7 linked regions of the Homo sapiens genome follow. The protein of the gene in region 1 interacts with the protein of each later gene in a pairwise test. Each region holds a gene or a part of one and is shown on either strand. Other genes may lie near its edges.

The links.
Region 2: the proteins of RSPH1 (region 1) and SH3GLB2 interact in a two-hybrid assay, tested with the Homo sapiens proteins (one large-scale study listed by BioGRID and IntAct).
Region 3: the proteins of RSPH1 (region 1) and CXXC5 interact in a two-hybrid assay, tested with the Homo sapiens proteins (one large-scale study listed by BioGRID and IntAct).
Region 4: the proteins of RSPH1 (region 1) and ZNF662 interact in a two-hybrid assay, tested with the Homo sapiens proteins (one large-scale study listed by BioGRID and IntAct).
Region 5: the proteins of RSPH1 (region 1) and BTG3 interact in a two-hybrid assay, tested with the Homo sapiens proteins (one large-scale study listed by BioGRID and IntAct).
Region 6: the proteins of RSPH1 (region 1) and ZNF793 interact in a two-hybrid assay, tested with the Homo sapiens proteins (one large-scale study listed by BioGRID and IntAct).
Region 7: the proteins of RSPH1 (region 1) and SEPTIN3 interact in a two-hybrid assay, tested with the Homo sapiens proteins (one large-scale study listed by BioGRID and IntAct).

The regions. Positions count from the first base shown.
Region 1 is NC_000021.9:42,475,725-42,479,224, reverse strand, and holds part of RSPH1 (radial spoke head 1 homolog), read left to right. Parts: intron 1-1,780; coding exon 1,781-1,934; intron 1,935-3,177; coding exon 3,178-3,327; intron 3,328-3,500.
Region 2 is NC_000009.12:129,006,536-129,008,933, forward strand, and holds the end of SH3GLB2 (endophilin-B2), read right to left. Parts: intron 2,257-2,398; coding exon 2,149-2,256; coding exon of another isoform or gene 2,007-2,148; 3' UTR 501-2,006; downstream 1-500. Other genes in the region: nucleoporin NUP188, read left to right, coding at 1-143.
Region 3 is NC_000005.10:139,647,187-139,651,148, forward strand, and holds the start of CXXC5 (CXXC-type zinc finger protein 5), read left to right. Parts: upstream 1-1,162; 5' UTR 1,163-1,659; intron 1,660-1,764; exon of another isoform or gene 1,765-1,995; intron 1,996-2,148; exon of another isoform or gene 2,149-2,542; intron 2,543-3,802; exon of another isoform or gene 3,803-3,962. UniProt on the Homo sapiens protein: May indirectly participate in activation of the NF-kappa-B and MAPK pathways. Acts as a mediator of BMP4-mediated modulation of canonical Wnt signaling activity in neural stem cells.
Region 4 is NC_000003.12:42,904,683-42,908,941, forward strand, and holds the start of ZNF662 (zinc finger protein 662), read left to right. Parts: upstream 1-1,459; 5' UTR 1,460-1,486; exon of another isoform or gene 1,487-1,669; coding exon of another isoform or gene 1,670-1,759; intron 1,760-3,339; coding exon of another isoform or gene 3,340-3,432; coding exon 3,433-3,466; intron 3,467-4,110; coding exon 4,111-4,227; intron 4,228-4,259. UniProt on the Homo sapiens protein: May be involved in transcriptional regulation.
Region 5 is NC_000021.9:17,602,902-17,606,401, forward strand, and holds part of BTG3 (protein BTG3), read right to left. Parts: intron 2,097-3,500; coding exon 1,959-2,096; intron 1,376-1,958; coding exon of another isoform or gene 1,244-1,375; intron 1-1,243. UniProt on the Homo sapiens protein: Overexpression impairs serum-induced cell cycle progression from the G0/G1 to S phase.
Region 6 is NC_000019.10:37,520,439-37,523,938, reverse strand, and holds part of ZNF793 (zinc finger protein 793), read right to left. Parts: intron 3,409-3,500; exon of another isoform or gene 3,340-3,408; intron 1,408-3,339; 5' UTR 1,292-1,407; intron 530-1,291; 5' UTR 500-529; coding exon 485-499; intron 1-484. UniProt on the Homo sapiens protein: May be involved in transcriptional regulation.
Region 7 is NC_000022.11:41,989,943-41,993,442, forward strand, and holds part of SEPTIN3 (neuronal-specific septin-3), read left to right. Parts: intron 1-1,630; coding exon 1,631-1,726; intron 1,727-2,721; coding exon 2,722-2,821; intron 2,822-3,500. UniProt on the Homo sapiens protein: Filament-forming cytoskeletal GTPase. May play a role in cytokinesis.

The sequences.
Region 1 (3,500 bases):
CCCTAGTAAGGGGAATGTATCCCTTCTAGAGTAGGGCTTGCCAAGCTGCAGCCCACGGCTCACTCCCTGTTTCTTTTTAAATTATGGTTTTATATGTACGTTTATAGAGTTTGAAATTTGCCATTTTAAAGCATGCTTTCAGTGGCATTCAGTACGTTCAGTGTTGTGCAGCTGTGAGAATGATGCATTTCTGGAGCTTGTCCGTTATCCCAGACAGAAACTCTGTACCTATTAAGCAACAACTCCCCATTCGACCTCCCCCAGCCCCTGATAGCTTTTAATCTACTTTCTTTCTCTATGAATTTGCCTATTCTAGATGTCGCATATAGATGAATTCATTCTGTATTTGTCCTTTTGTGTCTGGCTTCTTTCATTTAGCACGACGTTTTCAAGGTTCTTGCTTATCCATTTGTCTGTTGATGGACAATTGAGTTGCTTCCACATTTTAGCTATTATGAATAATGCTGCAGTGAACATTGGTGTGCAAGCATCTGGTCGAATCTCTGTTTTCAGTTCCTTTGGTTATATACCGAGGAGTGGAATTGCTGGGTCATATGGTGATGCTGTTTCGCTTTTTGAAGAACTGTCAAATGTTTTCTACAGTAGCTGCAGCATTTTACGTTCCCACCAGCAATGTGAAAGGGTTCCACCTCTTGGTTTTATACATAAAGTGGCGTGCAGTTCCCAAACTAGTGCTGTCAGCTTCACCTGGGAATCTGTTAGGAATGCAGCTTATTGGACGCTATCCCAGACCTGCCGAATCTGAAACTCTGGGGGTGGGGCTAGCAATCTGTCTTTTAATGCTTTCTGGGTGATTCTGATCTAAGTCAAGTTTGAGGACCCTGTCCTGCAGCATTGGTGTCACCCTTCATGGGTGGCCATATTCAAACACTCTGAGACCAAAATAGAGAGTAATTGATTTCCCAGTGACTCAGTGGAAGAGGCAGGTGTCTGCCCCTCTCTGTCATCGGTATTATCACCTATGTGGCAGCGAAGTGTTCCATAGTCATAGTGCTGATGCTCAGATCTTTGGAATTTTGTGATAGTCACAAAACTGAGAAGTAGGCAAATATGCTTGGCAAAATTGGCACATGTTGGCTGCTCACCATTGTCGGAATTGTACATTTTTTATTACAAAGTGTTCCATGTTCAGACTTGATGAACTCTCATTCTGCTTTCCTTGAATTTTATTTTTCCCCATAATCCTTGACACTTGAGCTTTTGCGTTTATGCAAATCCATATCATATGGACATCTTAGGAACTTCTTAGGCCTAAGCCTAAAACAAATGGCTGTTTCTTTTATTATTTATATAAAGAATAATATAAATAATTATGTTTCTACTAAGCTCAATAGACATATAATTATATAATACACGATTTTTTATATTAGAGTTGCAAAATGTGGCCGAACAATTGAAAAGACCACTTACTCCTGGTCACTCAGTTCTGGCCACTTAGTCCTGGCCATGTCTTAGCTATTGCAGGCGACTGCGACATGCTCATCTGAAAGCCTTTTGTGGCACCCATTATAAAGCTCGCTGGCCCAGCATTGCTCTGGAGACTTTATTCCTCACCCTGGCTCTTTCAAGATCCATTCTCAACCCTGAGATTATACCATGGATAGTCAGCAACTGGTCTGATTCCTGAGTGACGTCCTAAAAAGGCTGAAACACAAGCCAAAACCTGTCTTTCAAAACTTGTCCTTCCTCCCTCACTTTTAATATTCCAGACCAAGATGACACAAATGTTGGTAAATGTACATTTTTGCACTTAAAATAGGAAAGAGGAGAAGAGGAAGAGGAGGAAGAATTAGTAACTGTTGTTCCAAAATGGAAAGCTACCCAAATCACTGAATTGGCCCTGTGGACACCAACTCTCCCCAAAAAGCCGACCTCTACGGATGGACCTGGCCAAGACGCTCCAGGAGCTGAGAGTGTGGGGCACCCCCGGGCTGTGGGGTGGAGGGGGCAGAGGGTGTGGGGCACCCCCGGGCTGTGGGACAGAGGGTGTGGGGCATCCCCGGGCTGTGGGGTGGAGGGGTCAGAGGGTGTGGGGCATCCCCGGGCTGTGGGGTGGAGGGGGCAGAGGGTGTGGGGCATCCCCGGGCTGTGGAGTGGAGGGGGCAGAGGGTGTGGGGCATCCCCGGGCTGTGGGGTGGAGGGGGCAGAGGGTGTGGGGCACCCCCGGGCTGTGGGACAGAGGGTGTGGGGCATCCCCCGGGCTGTGGGACAGAGGGTGTGGGGCATCCCCAGGCTGTGGGATGGAGGGTGTGGGCGCCTTTGGGCTGTGGGAGTTGTGGACATCCTGTTTTCAGGCCAGGTGTGGTTGGACTCTCTGAAAATCAGATGCTGGGTCAGTTGAGTGTGCGGGATGTTATTAGGGAGAGCCTTTGGGATTGGAGGACACTCCCGGAGAGCGGAGGGGAGAGGAAAGAAACAGAGTTGATTGGACAGAGGCGGAGGTGTGGCCTCCACAACCTTGCTTCATTCCATGGGGAGCACTGTGGCGTCTCGGGGACCCTTATCCCCTCACCTAGGTCAGTGAGTGAATGTGGGTGTGACCCCGGGCTGGCACTGACAGCAGCTGAGGGGACAGCCCTTCCCTGAAGAAGGGTCCGTGTGGCACCTCCATGTCCAACCCAGTGGTCTTTCTGGAAGTCCTTAATGTGCTGGGGAAAGTTGAAGGTGGCTACCCCGGGTGAGATCCCTTCCATGGCAAGCGGAGGAAAGCCAACTCCGATTGGCCTCCGTGAAAGAATACTCATGCTGCTAAGAATTTCTTGGCTCATGTGACTGGGAAGCTCCGGGACAGCCCCCAGAATGGCCGGGCAGCCTCTGCCCTCTGTCCCAGCTCTCCTCTCTGCTGGCTCCCCTGGCTGGCACTCTCAGGAACCCCAGGGGACTTCTCTTTCTCAAGAGTCTCATCAACACCCTCAGGAATGAAAGTTATCAGACTACCTGCTCCCATCCCCAAGCCACTGACTACAGTGGGGACTGGGCTGCTCCCCTGGCCAGGCCTAGGCTGGGCTGGGTGGATGTTGAGATGGGGAACATGAGGTGCTGCCAGTGGGAGGGGGAGGGTGGGGGCACGGCAGCCCAGGGGACAGCTGCCCTGCACAGGTCTGCAGGCTCCATTTTTCCCAGGAACTCAGGCTTCTGACTTGTGTTTTATCTCAGGTGCAGGAGAACCCGGGGAGGAGGCCCAGGCTCTGCTGGAGGGCTTCGAGGGTGAGATGGACATGAGGCCTGGAGATGAAGATGCAGACGTCCTCCGGGAAGAGAGCCGGGAGTATGACCAGGAGGAGTTCCGCTATGACATGGATGAGGGTGAGGTCCCTGCGCAGGGAAGTGGGGCGAGGGCCCGCACTTAGGGGCCACGAACAGTGGGATTCCCCTTCCCTTCACCAAGGCCTGCCTTCAGCTGGGCCCCAGGGACTCGAGGAAGGCTTAGGGGGCCCCCTGTGAGCGCTCACTGGAGCCATCTCAGAACGTTGCTCCCT
Region 2 (2,398 bases), on another chromosome or scaffold:
GCCGGGGAGCCCCCAGCTCCCCTGCCACTGGTGTCCTCCCCTCGCCGCAGGGCAAGTCCACCTCTCTCTCCAAAGCCAGCCCTGAGAGTCAGGAGCCTCTGATCCAGTTGGTGCAGGCGTTTGTCCGGCATATGCAAAGATAGGGCAGTGCTGTTCTGCCCACCTACCCCTCTCCACCAGCCTACACTGCACCCTGGCTGGCAGGGGTGCTGCTGGCTGCTAGGGCCTATACAATGGAGGGCACCTCCTGTCACCCCCCTCCCGGAGTAGCCACGACTCCAGCCACCACCCACTGACGTTATTTTTATACTAGATGAAGAGGTCAACAGCAGGCATGGGGAGCCGAGTCTTCTGTGCTCAGGTCCTCACGCTGCAGACGCCCCCTAGAGGAACTTTCCTTCCTTTCCAGCATTCCCCACAGCACTGCCGGCCAGGGGAGAGGCGGCAGCCCAGCAGAGGGCTCTATGCACGGGTTTCAAACCTGTTTTCCACACTCTGTCTTTGCAGTTTTGGTAATTCTGTGGTCTATTTATACAGATATTAAAATCTTGTTTATAGACAGCTGTGTGATGTTTAACTTCAAAGCCCAGGGATGACAACGTGGCTCTCAGAACCTAGAAAACTCCCCTGGCCAGGCGCCTGGGAGTGGGGCTGCAGCCTCGGGGGAAGGCAGGTACTGATGGATGGCTAGTTCACCAGCATCTCCTCATTCCTGTCCTTGGGCTGAGGGTTTGGCTGGGTGGGCGCTGTCAGATATTCCCTTCCTTGGCCTGCGCTGGTCCTGTCCTTGACCCTGCTTTCATTGGCCCAGTGGGCTGAGCTCATCCCTGGGTGAGCCTTTCTTGAAGCTCTGTGCCTTCCTATTTATAGCCCCGTGCCCCCGTCATCCCCCGATCCCCTCTTCAGAAGCCCCAACAGTGGGGCCTACTGGCTGTTGGCCTTCTCAGGACTGAAGTCAGAATGCTAGGTCCTGCTAGGGGCCATCTAAAACACAGACATCACTTAGGGTTTCTAGAATCAGGCTGCCTGGGCTTCAGTCCCTGCTTGGCCACTTGCCAACTGTGGTCCCTTGAGGAGCTGACTGTCTTGCTGATCTCATCTGTGAAATGTGGACACTGAGGACGGCATGAGAACCCATGGCACGGGGGCACATGCTGGGTGAAACGCCCGACCTGCAGACAGCACTGACCGCTACCCACTTCTTGTGCTTGAACTGAACTGTCAGACGCATTCTACAGTCCGCTCCACAATCCAAATTTAGGAAACTTTTTCTTAGGAATAAAACGTTCCTTGTGCGGCTTCATGTCCAGGAACAGCACTGCCCTCTGAGAGGCACAGGCCCCGCAGAAGACAGGGAGGGCTGCACTTCTTCCCAACTAGAGAGCTGGGGGCCGGGGCAGCCACAGGGCCCCTGCTCACTCTGTGGAAGAGTGGGGCAGAGGGTGAGTCTACCTTTCCCTTTACCACCCTCAGGGCCAGGCCCTGACAGGAGCCCAGGTGACTCGCACACAAGGACGGTTTATTGGCTAGAGAGCAAACGCAGGCAGAAGTAAAAACACCAGATAAAAAGTGAGTGTGGAGAGGTGAAGACTGCGGCCGCTGGACTTGGCTTGAGCTGTGAGGGGTGGGAGGGGAGGATAGCACCGGAAGATGCTGCTCCGGGCCCAACACCAGCCCTGGCCAGGCTCTCCCCTCCCAGGGGCAGCGCCCAGTCCCCAGGGGCTGCCAGAGCCCTGTGTGCCTTGCCGCATTCCCCTGATGCAGCTTTTGGCAACTGAAAGGCAGGGCTCTCGCTGAGTGCACCTGGGGCTTCCTGAGCCCATCTGCGGCGGCCCCACCCTGGCCTAGGTGCTGAGTGCAGCTGCTGCAGACAGCCCCTCCCTCCTTAGTGGAGCCTGGAGGGTGGGGTGCTCGGGGATGCAGGCAGGGGCAGGGGCTCCAGAGCCACAGGTCAGAAGCAGGGCTGGGGGAGGGGTGGAGCCATTCAGCCTCAGGCACCCTCACAGCTAGGTGACTAGGGGCAGGGACAGAATGGGGTGAATTCTCCCCACTCTGAACAACTGTGTCACCAACAAACAAGTTAAGTGGCAGGGCTGCGCCCATCCTCTCCTGCCTAGGCCAGAATGCGGGGGGGATGGGGGCACCTGCCTAGCTGAGCAGTTCCAAGTAGGTGACAGGGACCTTGCCCTTCTTGTTGCCTCTCTCGCCAATGAGCCAGTCAGGGTCCATGCCAGGCAGGCTGTAGACAGTGATGAGCTGCAGAGATGGCAGTAGAGGACGGTCATGGCCTGGCCAAGGGTGGAACTGGCCCCAGGACTAAGTGGGGACAGAGCTGCCACCTCCCCATGGCCCGTGGCATGTGCTACACCTTCAGTGGCTGGCGCTCATCTCACTTGCT
Region 3 (3,962 bases), on another chromosome or scaffold:
ACAGTTAACTCCCTGTTATCTGGGCCCCAATCGATCTCAGGCTGTAACGTTTAACCCTAGGCTGACTTCCCCAACCGCCCTCCCCCTCTCCCTCCCCTGCTTGGGTCTGGGGACTGCGTTTTCTTCGCCTCGCAGAGGAAGGTCGGCCTTGCACAAATCCGCCCCCACGAATCCCAAAGAATTGGAGAAAACTTCCACTTTGGGATTATATGCAGTTGGGATTATATGAGCCCGGGGCTTGCACCATGGGTACGTGAGGTGAAGACATCTGCAGCAGCAGGATTAATTAGCCTAAGATGGGCATATGGAGGCCACTGATGGAGTGAAAGCGGGATATGCGGGCCCAACTCTGTCCCCACTGGGCGCCTACTCTGGCAAGGCTGAGTTTTCCTTCTGTCTTTCAATCAGTACCTATTGAGCGCTGCTGTTCCAAGCATTGTTTCGGGTTTTGAGTGCGTAGGCCATGGTCTCAGGGCACCAAATGTACGTAGTCGTTTTAGCCCCGGGACTCAAGAGTTGAGGCTGATGCCTGCCTGAGAGATAAAATATCCTTTCTCGGATCAGTTTCCTCACCTGAGAAATGGGAACGGGAATCTCCGCCCCTTTTCTCCCGGGGCCCTAGTGCCCACTGAATCCATTAAGGAGCTCTTGGAAGGGTGGGGTCTTGGAACACGCGTCTACCTCCCAGGACCCTCGACTAGGAATCTCTGGCCCGCCGCGCACCTGAGCTGGGGGGCGCGGCCAAATTCTCCCTCCCGGTCCTCGAAGCTTCTGGCCCCGCTCTAGAGGGGGCAGAAAGATAGCAGATTTCCCCGGAGGTGCGTCTCTAAACCCAGACCGCCTCACCAAAGCGGGGAGGTCGTCCTTTTTTTTTTTTTTTTGTAAAGTTGCGGGAAATAGGCGAAGACGGGGCGCGCAAGGGAGCTGAGCCTGGGTGGACCGCGTCAGGGCGCGGGGAGCTCGAGGCGCAGCGGCTGCAGCTCCGGCCTCAGAGCCCGCGGCGTCCAAGTGGCCCGAGCTGCGCTGGGAGGGAGGCGGCGGGAGGAGGGAGGGGAGCCGAGGTGGAGGGGGTTGGGGGGAGGAGGGAGCGGCGAGTCCGGTCCGGGTTTTGCCGGCAGCCCCCGGGCAGCGTTCATAGCTCCTGCCCGGGCGGGCGCGCGGCGGCGGCGGCAGAGGCGGCTGAGCCTGAGCGGGGATGTAGAGGCGGCGGCAGCAGAGGCGGCACTGGCGGCAAGAGCAGACGCCCGAGCCGAGCGAGAAGAGCGGCAGAGCCTTATCCCCTGAAGCCGGGCCCCGCGTCCCAGCCCTGCCCAGCCCGCGCCCAGCCATGCGCGCCGCCTGCTGAGTCCGGGCGCCGCACGCTGAGCCCTCCGCCCGCGAGCCGCGCTCAGCTCGGGGGTGATTAGTTGCTTTTTGTTGTTTTTTAATTTGGGCCGCGGGGAGGGGGAGGAGGGGCAGGTGCTGCAGGCTCCCCCCCCTCCCCGCCTCGGGCCAGCCGCGGCGGCGCGACTCGGGCTCCGGACCCGGGCACTGCTGGCGGCTGGAGCGGAGCGCACCGCGGCGGTGGTGCCCAGAGCGGAGCGCAGCTCCCTGCCCCGCCCCTCCCCCTCGGCCTCGCGGCGACGGCGGCGGTGGCGGCTTGGACGACTCGGAGAGCCGGTAGGTGTCGGGCCACGGCCCTCCCTCGACCCCCCCCGGAGGCCGGCCCCCTCCCCTTCCCCGCCTACCTCCCTCTCCTCCCCCGGGGTTCGGTGCGCGGCCGGGGCCGGAGTTCGCTGCAAGTCGGCGGAAAGTTTGGCTGCGCGGGTTCCCCCGAAGTTCAGGTGCGGAGAGCCGGGGACGGGGAAGGAGGGGTCCGTATTTGGGAGGGGCGGGGGGCGCCCGCACCGTAAGCCGCGGAGCCCCGGAGCCTGGGAGACCTAGCGCCGGTGATCGCTTGGTGGCCGCTGCTATACCCAAGCCTCCCTAAGCCGCAGTATGCTCGGTCGCAGATCACTGAGTTCAGACAAAAAGAGGGGTTTTAGGGTCTGGGACGGCGGCTTGGGCGCCGTGGAGTGGGGCTGGGACGCTCCTTGCGGGGTGCCGCCCCCCTCCCCCCCACTACTCCAGTTCGCGGGCGCTGGGGCAGCGGGCGCCCGGGGTCCTCACCTCTTGGCGTTGGGCGGGCGCTCAGCCTGCGGGGGCGGCTGCTTGTAGATCTCTGGCGCGCACTCCCCCCATCAGACCCCGCTCGCAGCCCTGTGTTGAGGGGCGACGTTAACTGCTCTGGGCGCCCTCGACCACGCGTGGCTGAGCCTCCCCCACCACTTGGAAGAAGCGGCGGCTACTTCTGCATTTTTCCTCCGGCTCCTCGCCCCCGCTGCCCGCGGGGTGCCCGGCGGGCTGATGAAGTTTGACCTTTTTTTTCCATCAAAGTATCTCCCCCACCACCACGGTGCCCCGCGGCCCCTCCCTCCCTCCTTTCCCAGCCTTGGGGAGTCTTTTGAGCTGTCTCCCGAGCCCCGCGTGGGCCACGCAGCGTGCAGAGCCTGGGAGGGAGAATGGGGGTGTTCCTCTAGCTGCGGAACTGTGGGGGGCGTACGTCCCCGGCGCCTGCCACGCTGCACTGGCCCCAAATTTACCCATGAAGTTCGGCCCGACCCCCCTCCCCTTCGCTTCCCCGGAGCGGAGTGAGGGGCTGAACCGCCGCGAGAGGAATGTGTTAATTTTCTGGCTGGGGGAAGTTGTCCTCGCCCGGAATGGGCTGCTTTCCGGCGGGGAGCGCGGGGTGCGCCTGGCTTTGTTTATTTGTAGGATCGACGGAAAGCGAGTGACCCCGGTTTTTAAATGGGGGGCCACCTTCGGGACCTGTCAGAAGAGCTGAAACGCCCAAAGTGGGAGCAAGATCTCTTTTTGTTCTTTTTTCCCCCCCGGGAATCTGAAGGGGTGCGCGGAGTTGGGCTGGTGCCTCGGGCTGCAAGGAAGCACCAGTAAATTTGGGGGGTTCTGTAGTGACTCATTCGGAAAGACCCGCTCCCTGAAGTCTCCCGCGACGGGGGTCTGAAGGTTTGGCAACCGCGCCCTCCTTTGCCCCCTGGACTTTGGGTGGTCTGAGAGTCGCGCCTTCGGATGGGGGGGGAGCTAAGGGGGTGACCAGCGGACCAGACTCCTGACCCCCACCTTTCCTCGCGCGGCGGGCGCTGTTTGGAGCCCTTGGATTTGTGGTGGGCCCTGTCCCCCCCACCCCCGCATTTTCTTTGGAAGCGTTGGGGAGGGGGCGTGTGTGAGATCGCTCGGCCCTCGCCCCCGCCGGAGCCGCCCCAGGGCCGCCGGCAAACAGAGTCCCTTTCAAGTTTTCCGCTGGGGCCGCCTGGCGGGGGCTGCGAGCGCGGTCGCTGCGGACTTGTTTGGAGCGCGATTTGAACGCCCGGCTCCACCTCAGCTGCCCCAGGCCGCGGGGTGGGGGGCGTCTGTCCTTTGCAGTTGGGAGTATTTAAATTAGACGTCTTGGGGGACCTACTGGCCTAAGCTTCACCTGATCCCCCTCCTGAAAGATGCCCGTGCCTTGGTTTCCAACCGCCACTAGAAAACCGGGAACTGAGACCGAAGCCCCCTCTAAACCCCTTTCTGAGAGCCGTGCGGGGAAACTCAGGCCGGCGGGCTACCTACCCGTAACTGCGTATTGTTGATTTAGCAGTTTCCCTAGATGAGAGTCAGGCTGGAGCTTGGGGGGGTGGGGAGTGGCCCGCTCTGCAGCTGTCACCCCCCTCCCAGAACGGAAATTGTCCTCTCCTTGGGGAGGAGGGAGAGGGGGTGATGGTTTGATTTTTGCCCTGGGAAGAGATGGGAACAGCTGAAGGAGATTGGCCTCCGAGTTCCCAGCCAGCCCCCGGAACTTGGGTAGAACCCCCCTACCCCTCATCCTCGCAGTAGCTGGGTCTCTCCCAGGGACGCCCCTAGTCAGCCTTGGCCTCCCTCTCCAT
Region 4 (4,259 bases), on another chromosome or scaffold:
CCCCCTACCAATTACATAAGATTCCCTGCTTCTAGTTAGCCCGCCTGTAGTTTCCCCATGCCAGCAACTTCCAATAAGGGAATACCTGAAGCCATTCCTTTTTTCCACTGTGAAGCTTTCCCCACTCTTCTGCCTGACTTTCAGTCTGCTGAATGCAAGTGATGAGGGCTGACTCTCTTGTCATATATAGCAAGCTCTGAATAATAGTCTTTGTTCTCATTTGAATAATCTTTATTTTCACACTTCTTAAAAAATTTAATTTCCTGGCATGTTGCATAATGTTAGGTAAGCCATTTTCTCTCTTTGGGCCTTACTTTCTTCAACTGAAAAACTGGTTCAACATTTATTCATTCTTTTATTCCGTAAGCCAAAAATAAAATTCAAAGCCCTCTGACCATATGAATGGATCTCTCCTCTTGGCTAAGGGCATTCCAAAGTTAACGTGAAAAACTGGTTCAGGCCATAATGGGAAGGAGGAGTTGGACATGGCTCATTATGCTCCCCTACCTTTTGAAATTCAGGACCAGCTGACCAGCATTAACATCAACACAGACCTTAAGACTGATAGAACAGCCTCTTTAAGTCTCACAGACTATCCGGTAGTGTGATAATGATGAGAAACATTTGCAGTCTATTCTCTGAAGCCTGCTACAGGCTCCATCTGCATGATAAAACTTTGGTCTCCACAAGCCCTTATCTTAACTGAGACATCCCTTTCTATTGATTCTAAGTCTTTATACAATAACTTAACTCTTTCAACCAATTGCCACTCAGAAAATCTTTGAATCCACCTATGTCCTGAAAGCCTCCTCTTCCAGTTGTCCCACCTTTCCATACCGAACCAACGTACATCTTACATGTATTAATTGATGTCTTATGTCTTCCTAAAATGTGTAAAACCAAGTTGTAGCCCGACCACGTTGGGCACATGTTCTCAGGATCTCCTGGGGCTGTGGCACGGGCCATGGTCACTCATATTTGGCTCAGGATAAATCCCTTCAAATATTTTACAGTTTGACTTTTCGTGGACAATTCTACAAATATTCCTTGGCAGTTAAAGAAATAACTCCCCAGGAGGTGCTAGACATCGGGCGCATGTTAGAGGCACAAAGATGAGAATGTTAAAAGACATAAAATACAGGTCTGCTCTGGGAATGCAAAAACTGGTAAAAGGAGAGATAAAAGAGCAGGTGCAGTCTAGTGAAGTACCCGCTACCTCCTATCAGCAAATATCTGTCCACCTAGGGTGCAGCGAGCTGGAGAGGAAGGGGTGGCCTAGAGCGCAGGGGAAGGATTCCTCCCCAGCCGCCTGCACCCCTACCCCGGTAGCGGTCCCTGGGATCGTCCGTGTCTCCAGGAGAACCGGACCGCTCTCCCCTCCCTCCCCGAGCGAGAAAGGAGGACCACAGAGATGCGGCGCCCTCCGCCGTCCTAGAGCAACCGGAGCGGCCCGAGCCCCGGCCTCCCGGATGCTGGGGCCTGGCGGGTGTGGAGCACGGGGAGTCGGGCGTGGGGCGGGCAGGGAGTGGAGTCGGGGTCTTACTCCGGTGGCTGCAGGGCGCAGGGTAGCCGTGTCAGGCCTGCCCAGGTGCAGAGCGCTCTTCCGCGACCCCAACAGCCTCTGGTCCGGTCTGGCGCGCCCTCGCTTTCCCAGAGGGCGACCTGGGCTATGGCGGCCGTGGCGCTGGCGAGCGGGACACGCCTCGGCCTTGTCCTCGAGCTGCTCCCGGGACAGCCCGCGCTGCCCCGGGCGCGCCGGGTGAGTGCGGGGCCGGAGCCTGGAAGCAGTCTTGGCCCTGCCCTGGGTTCTAGGCCCGGAGACGGGGTGGTGCGGCGGCTGGGAAATGGGGGTACAACCCAGAGTGAGGGGCCTCGAGGGACAGGCAGCACAGCGGAGTCGACACCCCTGGACCTGAGCCTCAAGGAGAGCAGACGTGCAGCGGCACGGGGTTGAGCCGACTGCTGGGGCAGAGCGCACAGAGTGCTGTCGGGGGCGATGAATGGCCAGAATTTCAGAGCTGCCTTTACAGAGCTGGTTATGTTTGAGCTGGGTATTAGGTTGAAAAGGAATTTGCAATGCAGGAGCAGGAAGGAAGAACTGGATATTCAGGCAAGAGTAGCCGCAGGTGCAAGGACACAGAACAGGGTGAGGAAAGAGTTTGGTTTCCCAATGCAATGGTGAGAGGATCGGAGATGAGAGTGGTGGTGGCTGATGATCCTGGCCAGGAAAGCTGGGTCTGTGAGTAGTGAATGGAATTGTCTGTAGTGCAGAGGAATGTGGACTCTATTAGGCAGACAAAGTTGAGCCAGCCAAAGCCTTGGAGCCCTGGAGTGCTGGATAAATAGCTGTGGAGACTTTCTAGTGCGCAAGGACTGAAGTGCAGTGGACCAGAATGGGCTCCTCCACAGTGTGGAGACTGAGACCCTGAAGGAGGCAGTGGCTGAGAATTACGGGAAGTCCCAACGGCTGGAGGTCAGCAGTATTTGTTTCTTAAGAGGATGAGAGAAAGAAGGTGCAGGAGCTGAGACTCCTAGAGATATAGAAAATGGGGACATGGAGATTGGGACGTGGGTAAGCAAGTGAGGTGGGATCTTTGTGAGAGTGTTGCGGGTGGTGGGGGTGCAGGGAGTAAAGTCACAACGAGGATCTGCCCTGTTGAGTACAGTGTTCAGAGCAACCTGAATGTTCTGAGGAGCCCTAGCTGCCTCTGTGGCTGGTGGCAGTGACTGGGGAGGACAAAGGAGGAAGAGTCCTATACAGGGGCAGCAGGGATGGCAGGAATGGGGACGGAAGGCAGTGTGGCATAACAGGCAAGAGCCAGAGTCAAACAGGCCTGGGTTCTGTCTCAGTTCTGGAACTTTGGGGGAAGTTAATCCCTCCGAGTCTCAGTTTCCTCTTCTAAAAAACGGATCTGATAGTAGGCTATGAGACATAACAAAGAATATATGTCAAGTGCTTGGCACAGGCTTAATAAATGATAGTTGTTATCAAGGGTGGGTGACCTCTGAAGGAGGACACATTGTGGAGAGAGGATGGGACCTAGAGCACAGATGTGGTTTGGGGTATAAGGATGAAACAAGAAAACTTTTGCAGACTCATGAAAAAGAGGAGAAAATGTTTGCTGAAATAAAGATGAAGAGACATGAGAAAATTGATGGCTGATGCCTTGTCTCTTTGTACATAGGAGGCAAAAATCTTCTGCTGATAGAGTTCCTGTAGACATTCAGAATCCAGAATCCCCACAGGCACCCCCACAGTACCTTTTGATGCCCTGTCTCCCCTTCCTCTTGGCCTGGTCCTGGGGTTGTCCTAGGGCATTTAAACACATGTTGTTTCAGGAGTCAGTGACCTTCGAGGATGTGGCCGTCTACTTCTCTGAGAACGAATGGATCGGCCTGGGCCCTGCTCAGAGAGCCCTGTACAGGGATGTGATGCTGGAGAATTATGGGGCTGTGGCTTCCCTGGGTAAGGGTCTCTCCCTTTGGGCCCTGCCTCCACCCTTGAGAGTTTGCTGGCTCCTTTTTTCTCAAAGGCTCAGGAGTTGTTGATAACCCTCAGCTCAATGGCAGCTTCAGGCTCTTGGATTTTTAATGACCTAACCTCAGCAGCCGTTGGAAAGTAGGAAGTCCTGGTATCAGTTTGGGCCTTATACAGGACTTCCTTGCTCCAGAGTGAGAGGTGCCAAACCCCTACCCTTGTGTTGTGGGTATAGTGAGAAGAGAGCAAATTCATGGTGCTCCACTGAGCCTTCAGTTCCCTCCCCTCTCGGTTTGCAAGATCCAGCCTAATTCCAAGCATCCTCATGAGGATGTCTGAACTTGAGAGCTCTAAGAGGGAGAGGACAGGTAAGAATTGAGGACTCAATTCCTCAATGAGTGAAATCATCCATTTGCTGACTCAAACAGTTACTGAGTCGTCTGTCAACTTCCTGACCTTTGTAAGTCTCCTGGCCCCTCTCTTGTCCTTTCCCCTGGAATTCCTTTTCTTGTTCTTCCTAGTTATTTCCGTTTTTTTCCCCTCCTACCCCTGAAGACACTGGCCTGGGAGGAGCCTTGGGATTACTGTGTGCCATGCCACTCACCTGCCTGTCCCATTTCTTTCCTTTTAAGCAGCATTTCCATTTCCCAAACCGGCTCTGATTTCCCAGCTGGAGCGAGGGGAAACACCCTGGTGCTCGGTTCCTCGGGGAGCTCTGGATGGAGAGGCCCCAAGGGGCATCTCCTCAGGTGAGTGAGGGCACACGTGCCGGTCATCTGAC
Region 5 (3,500 bases), about 25 Mb from region 1:
AAACTTTCCCCTGATGGTTTAGGATCATTATATTGAACGTAAACTATTTGATTGTGTGATAACATAATCGTGCTGATTTTTTAGCTTTTTCATTTTTGCCTCTATGTCAGACCACATGACATTTTTTGGTAGCGTCTGACTCATCAACCCTCTTTAAAATGCTGCTTCTCACATTTCATGGGTTAAGAAACCACACAACTAACTTAACTGTGTGTTAAATAGGAGCCAACTAGGATCTAAGTGCAGGTCAAATTAAAAAGTAAACAATTCAATATAGTAGCTTTTTGACAGCTATTTCTTATAAATGGAGGTCTTCTGCACAGGTTCAGTGGCCAAAGTTTTCCAAGTCTGAAACTAGCCTAAAGCAGGTCCTTAATTAGTCCCAGAATCTAAAAATGTTTATTTTCTCAGACCTAAATTTGAGATAGCTTGCTCCTTTTCTACCCGAGAAAGAAGTATTGGAGAATGTTTATCACAAACCTCTACCACCTACATCTGGTTTCCAAAAGCAATAAACTTACACCAACCACTGGCAAATCAGGTAGTAACCTCAAGCGGTGGTCCTGACAAAATTTAATGGAAGAATAATCATGTAATTCATCTCTCCTGTCTTCACCTCCACCTTCATTGCTGGAATCAGGTCAGTCTGCGACCACCTTAGGAGTACATAGTTAGGGTTCCTTCAAAAAGCAACTTTACTACAATCAATAAAGAGGCCAGGTGGTCAGGTGAATTGTACCTCAAAACCAAATAGAAACATCCTAAAGGCAGAGCCACAGGAAAATTCTTGCAGGAATTCCATGCCTCTGTTCATCTTCTTCCTGCTAGTTAGAACATCCTTCCCACCTTGTCACCTGGTCAACCATGGCTCATCCTTCACCTCCCAGCTCAAGTATCACCTACTCAGTAGTCTCCTGACTCCTCACCAGATGCAGTAACTTTCTACTTTGTGCAACCTACCACTGCATTTTGTACACATTTCTAACATAAATCAGATAACAATGTAATTTGCTTACTTTTCTTCTCAATTTCAAACTGAATTACCTAAAAGCAGAATGTTGCTTTCGTTTTTGAAAACCCTACAACTGAGAGTGCCTGGTCCACAAATAATGGTTTTTGAGCAAGTGGAGTTCAAAAAGATTTCATACCTAGCACTGATCTTTCACAACTCTATTCATTAGGAGATGTGAAAAATAACTTCCATTATAAAAATAAAACCACGAAGTATCACTCAGTCACTTACATAATCAAAAAGGAGGAGGCCGGGCGCAGTGGCTCACGCCTGTAATCCAGCGCTTTGGGAGGCCAAGGCGGGCGGATCACGAGGTCAGGAGTTTGAGAGCAGTCTGGCCAACATGGTGAAACCCCATCTCTACTACAAATATAAAAAAAAATTAGCCGGGCACAGTGGTGGGCGCCTGTAATTCCAGCTACTCAGGAGGCTGAGGCAGGAGAATCACTTGAACCCGGCAGGCAGAGGTTGCAGACAGCCAAGAATGCACCATTGCGCTCCAGCCTGGGCAACAAGAGTGAAACTCCGTCCCAAAAAAAAAGAGGAGAGAGGGAGAATAAACAGAAACAGAAACAAACCAAAAGTGGTTATCCAGTATTATTTGGGATTAGCTTCTTAATTTGAAGACAGACAAGTGCACCACCAATTAAAGATAATAGACACCTAGCGGAATCTAGGTGTCTACTTCTTGGTCTACAATAAGCTTCTTGGCAAAGCACTACTAGAAAACCCCCGCCTAATCAGTTTCTTTTTTCGGCTATAAAGCAGAAATCTAACTAGTCCTTCAACATCACCTCCAGAAAAGTATTTCATAAAATTTACATCTGAGAGAGTTAAACCACCAGCTCCTGGCCATAAAGATACACAGGCAGGCCGTACATGACAGAATGTCATAAAATTAGTTCCAGCATGGTCATCAGTTCAGCCTCTAAACTTGAGAACTCACCGACAGCACACCTCACATGGGTCCACCCAGAGAGTGAGCTCCTTTGGCAAGCCCAGGTCACTATACAAGATGCAGCTGTTTTCACAGGCTTTCAGGACATCAGGATCAACTCTCTGAAATTTATTGACACGAATACATCTACAACAAAGTGGAGTTACGTTAATGGATTTAAATGAATTTAATCATAAACGCCGTAATATCTATTCATACTTGCCAAGGTGAGTAATAAAATAGTAATAAAAAAATACCCTGGTAGAGAACCTAGGAGCATATCTATCCTAAACAGATAATAAATGTGAACTACAGGCACAGAGGCAGCCTGAAAAAAAGATGGCACCTATGTGAGCCCAAGGAAATCACTAGTACTGGGTCTACCTCAGTCTACCCAGAGACTTGACCACCCATGTACATTAAATGAGCACGGAGTATGAAAGTTGCACGAAATTTTAGAACTCTGAAGGTAAAAGTTTCTATAGGCCAAGTTCCTATACAAAAAAATCTCTAACAAAAGGCCTCATCTAATGTTTCAGATGGTATTTGGAAATGCTTACGACAAATTCTGATCTGTCATTAACTTGCTTTTATATCTCAGATAGTAAAGTGGTAAGAGGACACCCTTGCTTTACCTATAATTGTTCTATAAATACAGGATAAGTGAAGGACACAGATTCATTCATATCATATACTTATGATTAAAATACCTAACTAACATGTTATTGGCTTATTTCATTTAACTTCTATTTACCCAAGCACTTTTATTTAAATAGTTGTCAAAATTAAGTGAGGAAAATTTCTAAACCAATAAAGCCTCTGTCCCATCTTTTTTTAACCTATTATACGACATCTACCTAATGGAATGTTTAATAAATAAAAAATATGCATTCTGTTAAATGATAAGCATTCTGATTAAGTAGGGAAATAGGGCCTATGAAGGAAAAGTATTTACTGCCTACAATCAAGAATCAATCAAGAGAACTTGGATTTCAGCACTAATCCTAGTATTTATCAGGTAAGCCTAGTTAAGTCACTGTACCTCTTCCTCAGACCTGTAACTATAAAACATGGAAATACAAGTTAATTGATGAATAGTAATTACGCTGTAAAATACAATGATATAAAGACTAATGTGCTATTTAAAGTTTTTGTAAAAGTTAAATTATTAGTTGGTTTTAATTTCTATTTAAAAAATGAAAAAGTTCTCAACAGGTAATAGGAATAAGTGTTTCTACATAATAATATTAACAATAATAAGCATTTTAAAAAATTTATTATGCAATGGACAATTTCCTAAATGCTTTGCATGTATTAACTCTTAATTCTCATGATCATCCTGTGAGTTAGATACTTTTTTCCTCAGCATAAAGAAAAAAGGAGGCAGAGAGAGTTTGAGTAACTTCCCAACATTACACAGCTACTAAGTGATGGATCTAGGGTTCAAATCCAGGCCACTAGACTCCAAAGAGCAAGTTATTTCCTTAATACTCAACCCTGTATATACGTACCTATCTTAGCGTCACCATTAACAATATAACAAAGGCAAAG
Region 6 (3,500 bases), on another chromosome or scaffold:
ACCTCAGGTTATGCAACTGCCTTGGCCTCCCAAAGTGCCGGGATTACAGGCATGAGCTACCCCTAGCGGCCGGCTTAAAACCTTTCTGAGAATTATCCTTGGCCAAAGGGTACTGCACCATCCAAGGATATCTACCCTCCTCGGGGCAGCCTACAATCAATGATTAGTTGATTTCAGAATATAAAAGCCTCCTTGCCTCCATTCACAACAATGCTGAAGGCCATCCCAGCTCCAGAGGATAAGATCCACTAAGGCCTCTGTTCAACAATTCCCTCAGCCCAATCCAGCTTCCCTCACTGTCTTACAGGTGTTCTAAGAGCCTGCCTAATCAACCTCCTGTGAGAAAAATCTCCATCTATGAGTCAGCTTCCCTGAGAACCCAGCCTGTATGTACAAACTGTACATACTTACAATGCACACCCTTTTTTTCCTCTAGGACAGTTTCCCCAGGAAGGAAAACTGGGCTACTTAATGTGATACTTACCTGGTATTCGATCATTTTCTGCTGTTCTTGAAAAAGATCTGACACCTGTAGACATGTGGGGGGAAGAAGATGGAGAAAGAGAGAACAGAGAACAGAGTGTAAAGAGCTAGGCCTGTCTTGGAAATTGCAAATTCCCTTTGTAAATATTGTACAAAAATCCATGCTTTTAGCTGGGTGTGGTGGCTTACACCTTATTTGAGGCCAGGAGTTAGGGACCAGCCTGGGCAATATGGCAAAGCCCCGTCTCTACAAAAAAAGATAAAAAATTAGCCAGGTATGGTGTTGCACACCTATAGTCCCAGCTACCCAGGAGGCTGAGGTGGGGGGATCACTTGAGCCTAGGAGGTCAAAGCTGCAGTGAGCCATGATCCCACTACTGCAATCTGGCCTAGGTGACAGAGTAAGACCCTGTCTCAAAAATTAAATAAATAAATAAACAAACAAATAAATACCCTTTATCTCTTATTTGTTTCAAATACTTTGAAATATTATATAGGTCATAAAGCATAGACCATAAAGCATGGTTGCCATAGTATCTAAATGCCCCACACCCCAAGACATTTAATGATTATAAAAGGAAAAGAAGTAACTTTGCCTTGGAAAAACTTGGCAGTATCACTTAGTCAAGTGATCAGTTAACGTGACCAGTAATGAGATATAAGACATCATGTGCCTCCTGATATAATGCACTGTGAAGGGTACAACATCCCTTCTGTGGTGTTCACACCCCAAATGCATACCTGAACCTAATCAATGAGGAGACATCAGACAAAACCATACTGAGTTACAATATACAAAATAACCTACCTATACTCTTCAAAAATGTCGACTTCATGGAAGATGAACACTGAGAAACTGCTCCTGATTAAAGGAGACTAAAGGGATGTGTCACCTAAAGGCAGCATATGATCCTGGATTAGATCCTGGAATGGAAAAAGAAAAGAAAAGTTGCTATAGGCCCGGGCACAGTGGCTCACCCCTGTAATCCCAGCACTTTGGGAGGCCGAGGTGGGTACATCGCCTGAGGTCAGGAGTTCGAGACCAGCCTGGCCAACATGGTGAAACCCCATCTCTACTAAAAATACAAAAATTTGCCGGGTGTGCTGGCAGGCACCTGTAATCCCAGCTACTCAGGAGGCTGAGGCAGGAGAATCATTTGAACCCAGGAGGCAGAGGTTGCAGTGAGCCAAGATCGCGCCATTGCACTCCAACCTGGGTGACAAGAGCGAGACTTGGTCTCAAAAAATAAGAAAAAGCAAGAAAGAAAAGTTGCTATAAAGTGACAGTATTAGTTGACATCTGATTGTAGACTGGATTAATCTAGTCTATGGTCTACATTAATCTAGTTATCATGATTATTAAATCATTATAACACTGACTTTGTAATCAGTGTCAAATGCCTGGTTTTGAAAACTACTGGTTACATAAAAAAAAGTTCTTATTCTTAGAAAATATACCCTGAAGTACTTATGGGTAAAGGAGCATCATGTCTGCAAGTTAGTCTTAAGTAGTTAAAGAAAGAATAGGAATGATATATTTATGATATAACATAATTATCTATATACATATATATTTGTATATAGAAAGAGAGGACATGCAAACATGGCTTTATATAGATGAATCTAGGTAAGGAATACATAGGAGACCACAGAAATATTCTTGCTTTTTTTTGGAAAAAAATTTCCAAATAAAATGTTTAGTTAAAAACAAAAGGCTGGGTGCGGTGGCTCACGCCTATAATCCCAGCACTTTGGGAGGCCAAGGCAGGTGTATCACCTGAGGTTGGGAGTTCGAGACAAGCCTGACCAACATAGTGAAACCCCATCTCTACTAAAAGTACAAAATTAGCCAGGCGTGGTGAAGCGTGCCTATAATCCCAGCTACTCAGGAGGCTGAGGCAGGAGAATCCCTTGATCCCTTGAACCTGGGAGGTGGAGGCTGCAGTGAGCAGAGATCGCGCCATTGCACTCCAGCCTGGGCAACAAGAGCGAAACTCTGTCTCAAAAAAAAAAAAAAAAAAAAAAAGAGAATTGACCATGCATGGTGATTCATGCCTGTAATCCCAGCACTTTGGGAGGCCGAGGTGGGTGGATCGCTTGAGGTCGTAAGTTCGAGACCAGCCTGGTCAACATGGTGAAACTCCATCTCTACTAAAAATACAAAAATCAGGACAGGCACAGTGGCTCACGCCTGTAATCCCAGCACTTTGGGAGGCCGAGGCGGGCAGATCACAAGGTCAGGAGATTGAGACCATTCTGGCTAACACGGTGAAACCCCGTGTCTACTAAAAATAAAAAAAATAAGCCGGGCATGGTGGCACACACCTGTAGTCCCAGCTATTTGGGAGGCTGAGGCAGGAGAATGGCGTGAACCCAGGAGGTGGAGCTTGCAGTGAGCCGAGAATGTGCCACTGCACTCCAGCCTGGGCGACAGAGTGAGACTTCATCTCGAAAAAAAAAAAAAATTAGCCGGGCATGGTGGTGCATGTCTGTAATTCTGAGATTCTGCCATTGTACTCCAGCCTGGGTGGCAAGAGTGAAACTCCGTCTCAAAAAACAAAACAAAACAAAATTATATACAGTAGGTCCATAAATTCTGCCACCACCACCATTCTGAGAATCCAGGGCCATTTCTGCCTCTGAGTCAGGATGGAGTGAACTAATCACATTCCTAGAGGCCAGGTGAGGTGCCAAAAATGACGGGAGAGCAAGTCTAGAGAGGTCCAGCAAGAATAAAGAAGCAGATGGGCCACACCCCATACCACAAGATAGCAGAACGCAATGGGCTAGAAAGATGCCCCCTTCTCCTGAAAGAACATGCCTATCGCACCCGCCATGAGACTCTGGCCTCCCTACCTCTCCCTTCACTCTGTCTTCCTGGATCTTGGGCCAACCATCCTCCCTTCATTTAGCCATGGAGAGTCCCTGGAAAGAGTAACGTCTTCAGGTTTGGTCTTGCTCAGCTTCTGGCTCAGGGATGAAGCTATTTCCTTTTATGTGGGAGTCTTTGCTCTGAC
Region 7 (3,500 bases), on another chromosome or scaffold:
CATGTATCACTGTGTACATAAGAAATCACTCCTCCAACGTTAGCCTAATTGAAGGGCTAGACTAATTAGTGAGTCAACTGGCCACTAGTCCTCACTGGCATCTTCTCTTTGTTTTTTTTTTGGAGTCTCTCTCTGTCGCCCAGGCTGGAGTGCAGTGGCGTGATCTCGGCTCACTGCAAGCTCCGCCTTACGGGTTCACGCCATTCTCCTGCCTCAGCCTCCTGAGTAGCTAGGACTACAGGCACCCACCACCACGCCTGGCTAATTTTGTTTTTCTCTTTTTAGTAGAGATGGGGTTTCACTGTGTTAGCCAGGATGGTCTCGGCTAGTCTTGATCTCCTGACCTCGTGATCTGCCCGCCTCGGCCTCCCAAAGTGCTGGGATTACAGGCGTGAGCCACCGTGCCCAGCCCTCACTGGCATGTTCTATAAGCTCAGCCCTGTGCTGGATGTACAGGGTTGGGGAGGGGCGATTTGAGAGAAATGAAAAGACAATTGCTGCCTTTAAGAAATTTACAATCCAGTTGGGCGTGGTGGCTCATGCCTGTAATCCCAGCACTTTGGGAGGCAGAGGCGGGTGAATCACGAAGTCAGGAGATCAAGACCATCCTGGCTAACACGGTGAAACCCCGTCTCTACTAAAAATACAAAAAAATTAGCCGGGTGTGGTGGCGGGTGCCTGTAGTCCCAGCTACTCAGGAGGCTGAGGCAGGAGAATGGCATGAACCCGAGAGGCGGCGCTTGCAGTGAGCTGAGATCGTGCTACTGTACTCCAGCCTGGGCGACAAAGTGACACTCTATCTCAAAAAAAAAAAAAAAAAAAAAAAGAAACTTACAATTGGCTGGGGGCGGTGGCTCACGCCTGTAATCCCAGCACTTTGGGAGGCCAAGGCGGGTGGATCACCTAAGGTCAGGAGTTCGAGACCAGCCTGGCCAACATGGTGAAACCCCATTTCTACTAAAAATACAAAAATTAGCTGGGCGTGGTGGCATATGCCTGTAAGCCCAGCTACTAGGGAGGCTGAGGCAGGAGAATCACTGGAACCCGGGAGGTGGAGGTTGTAGTGAGCCAAGATCGCACCACGGTACTCCAGCCTGGGCAACAGAGCAAGACTCGGTCTCAAACAAACAAACAAACAACAAACAAACAAAACTTATAATCAAATAGAAAATGAAGAGGTCCTGGATGGTTTCCTGGAGAAGGCAAGACTTAAGTCGACCTTGAAAGAGGGCAAACAGTCTCGGAGTAGGGGGAGCCTCACCTTTCTTCCTTCCAATCAGGAATATAACATGCAGGGGTCTGAGCACTCCCCAGTGGGCTCACCTGTGCTGCTTGTGTAAATCCCAGTCTCGCGGACCCTGAGATGAGCAAGCTGGTTGCGAGGCGCCTGGGACCTGAAGTTGCACCTCCTGGCCTCTTCCTCCTCTCAGGCTAGGTTGTAATTGTATAGCTGGGGCTTGCATTTATTCACCATCTTCCTGCTGCTCAGGGTCTCAGAGTTCAGAGATGACTGTGGATTATCCAAGGCTGGATTTGGCTCTCTGACCTCAGCTCACGCACACAGGTGCACACACCCCTCTTTTCCATTACCCTGACACTTGACTACCTTGTTTCTTCTCCTCGCCTCTAGGTTCGCAAGGAGCTTGAAGTAAATGGCATTGAATTCTACCCCCAGAAGGAATTTGATGAGGATTTGGAGGATAAGACGGAGAATGACAAAATCAGGGTGGGTGCCTGGGGCACTGCTCCTCCACTGATGCCCCCTTGCGACCTCTGGGATGTGTATTGTGCACGTCCTCTGTCTGTCTTTTCCCTTTCTGTACTCCCCCCAACCTTGCCTGACCCAGACCAGAAGTGACATAGGGGGATGGGGAGGACTATGGCCCTGGACTGTGAACCCACAGAAGGGCTCCCTGTACCCAGAAAGCCTTCTATCCCCAGACCACATAAAAGCCTCCTTTTCCCCAACAAGGTCTGGCAAAAACAGTATTTGGGGTGATGGGAGGGGCAGCAGGCAGGAAGAGCATCAGGCTGGGGTCCAGGAGGATCTATGCTGTGGTCAGACCCTGCCTTAGTTTCCCCTCTATGAAATGCAGGGGTTAGACTGAGTGGCTTATAGGCTTCCCCCGCTAGAATAACTTAAAAAAATTAAATTGGCTGGGCGTGGTGACTCATGCCTGTATCCCAGCACTTTGGGAGGCCTAGGTGGGAGAATCGCTTGAGCCCAGGAGTTCACGACCAGCCTGGGCAACATGGCAAAAACTTATCTCTACAAAACCTGCAAAAATTAGCCAGGCATGGTGGCGCATGCCTGTAATCCCAGCTACTCGGGAGGCTGAGGCAGGAGAATTGCTTGAAGCCAGGAGGTGGAGGTTGCAGTGAGTTGAAATTGTGCCATTGCACTCCAGCCTGGGCAACAAGAGCGAACTCTGTCTCAAAAAAGAAAGTACAAAGCGCTCTGCAGCTGAAGGAGAGCTGATTCCTGAGGTTAACCAGTGAGGCAGTGGTACAATTGGGACTAGACCCAGGACTCTTCAATCTCAGTCGGGTGCTCTTTTCAAGAGACTGAGCCTTGCCCTTGCCATCAGTAGTATCTCTGAATGAGCATCAGAAGTGTGTGGTTCAAGGCTAGAGGACCATATGCCATCCTGCTCCTGAAAGTCCAGGTTGTTGGAGGATGACGGTGCACATGTGTCTGGTTTGTGTTTCTGCCCCGTGCAGCAGGAGAGCATGCCTTTTGCTGTGGTGGGAAGTGACAAGGAGTACCAAGTGAATGGCAAGAGGGTCCTCGGCCGAAAAACTCCATGGGGGATCATCGAAGGTAATTCACTGCATCTTCTGGAAGAACTGGTTGCTGATCAGTTATCCAGTCACCATTTATTAAGCATCTATAGGTCAAGGCACTGTCTCAGGACATATGAAATGAATGCCAGCCAGATTCTGCCCATAAGGAGCTTACAGTCTCATTGAGAAGACGATGCTCACAGGCAGGAGTAACAAGAGACTGATTTAGCACCTGACTGGGTGGCACTGACTTAGCGCATCAAAGGAGTTCAGAACATGGAGAGATTAGTAAGGCCTGGAAAAACTGGAGAAAGGTTTTCATAGGAAGGGGGATGTGATCTGACAAACTGCCGGAGGGTTGTTCAGGTGTTGCCATTTCCATTTTATTATGAATGGATGTGACCCTGGGCGGGTCTTGATGATTCTGAAAGTGGTCAAAGAATCACTTTAATGATTTCATTCAATATGATAACCCTATGAAGGGAGGAGAGCGGGTGCTCCTGTTCTCAGAGTATAAGCTACCAAAGCACCGGAAGCTCAGGTTAAAAGCCTTGTCCAAAGCACATAACTTGTTAGTGGTGAAACTTGATTTCAGACTCAGATTTTTTTTTTTTTTGAGACGGAGTCTCACTCTGTCATCCAGGCTGGAGTGCAGTGGCGCAATCTCAGCTCACTGCAACCTCTGCCTCCCAGGTTCAAGTAATTCTTCTGCCTTA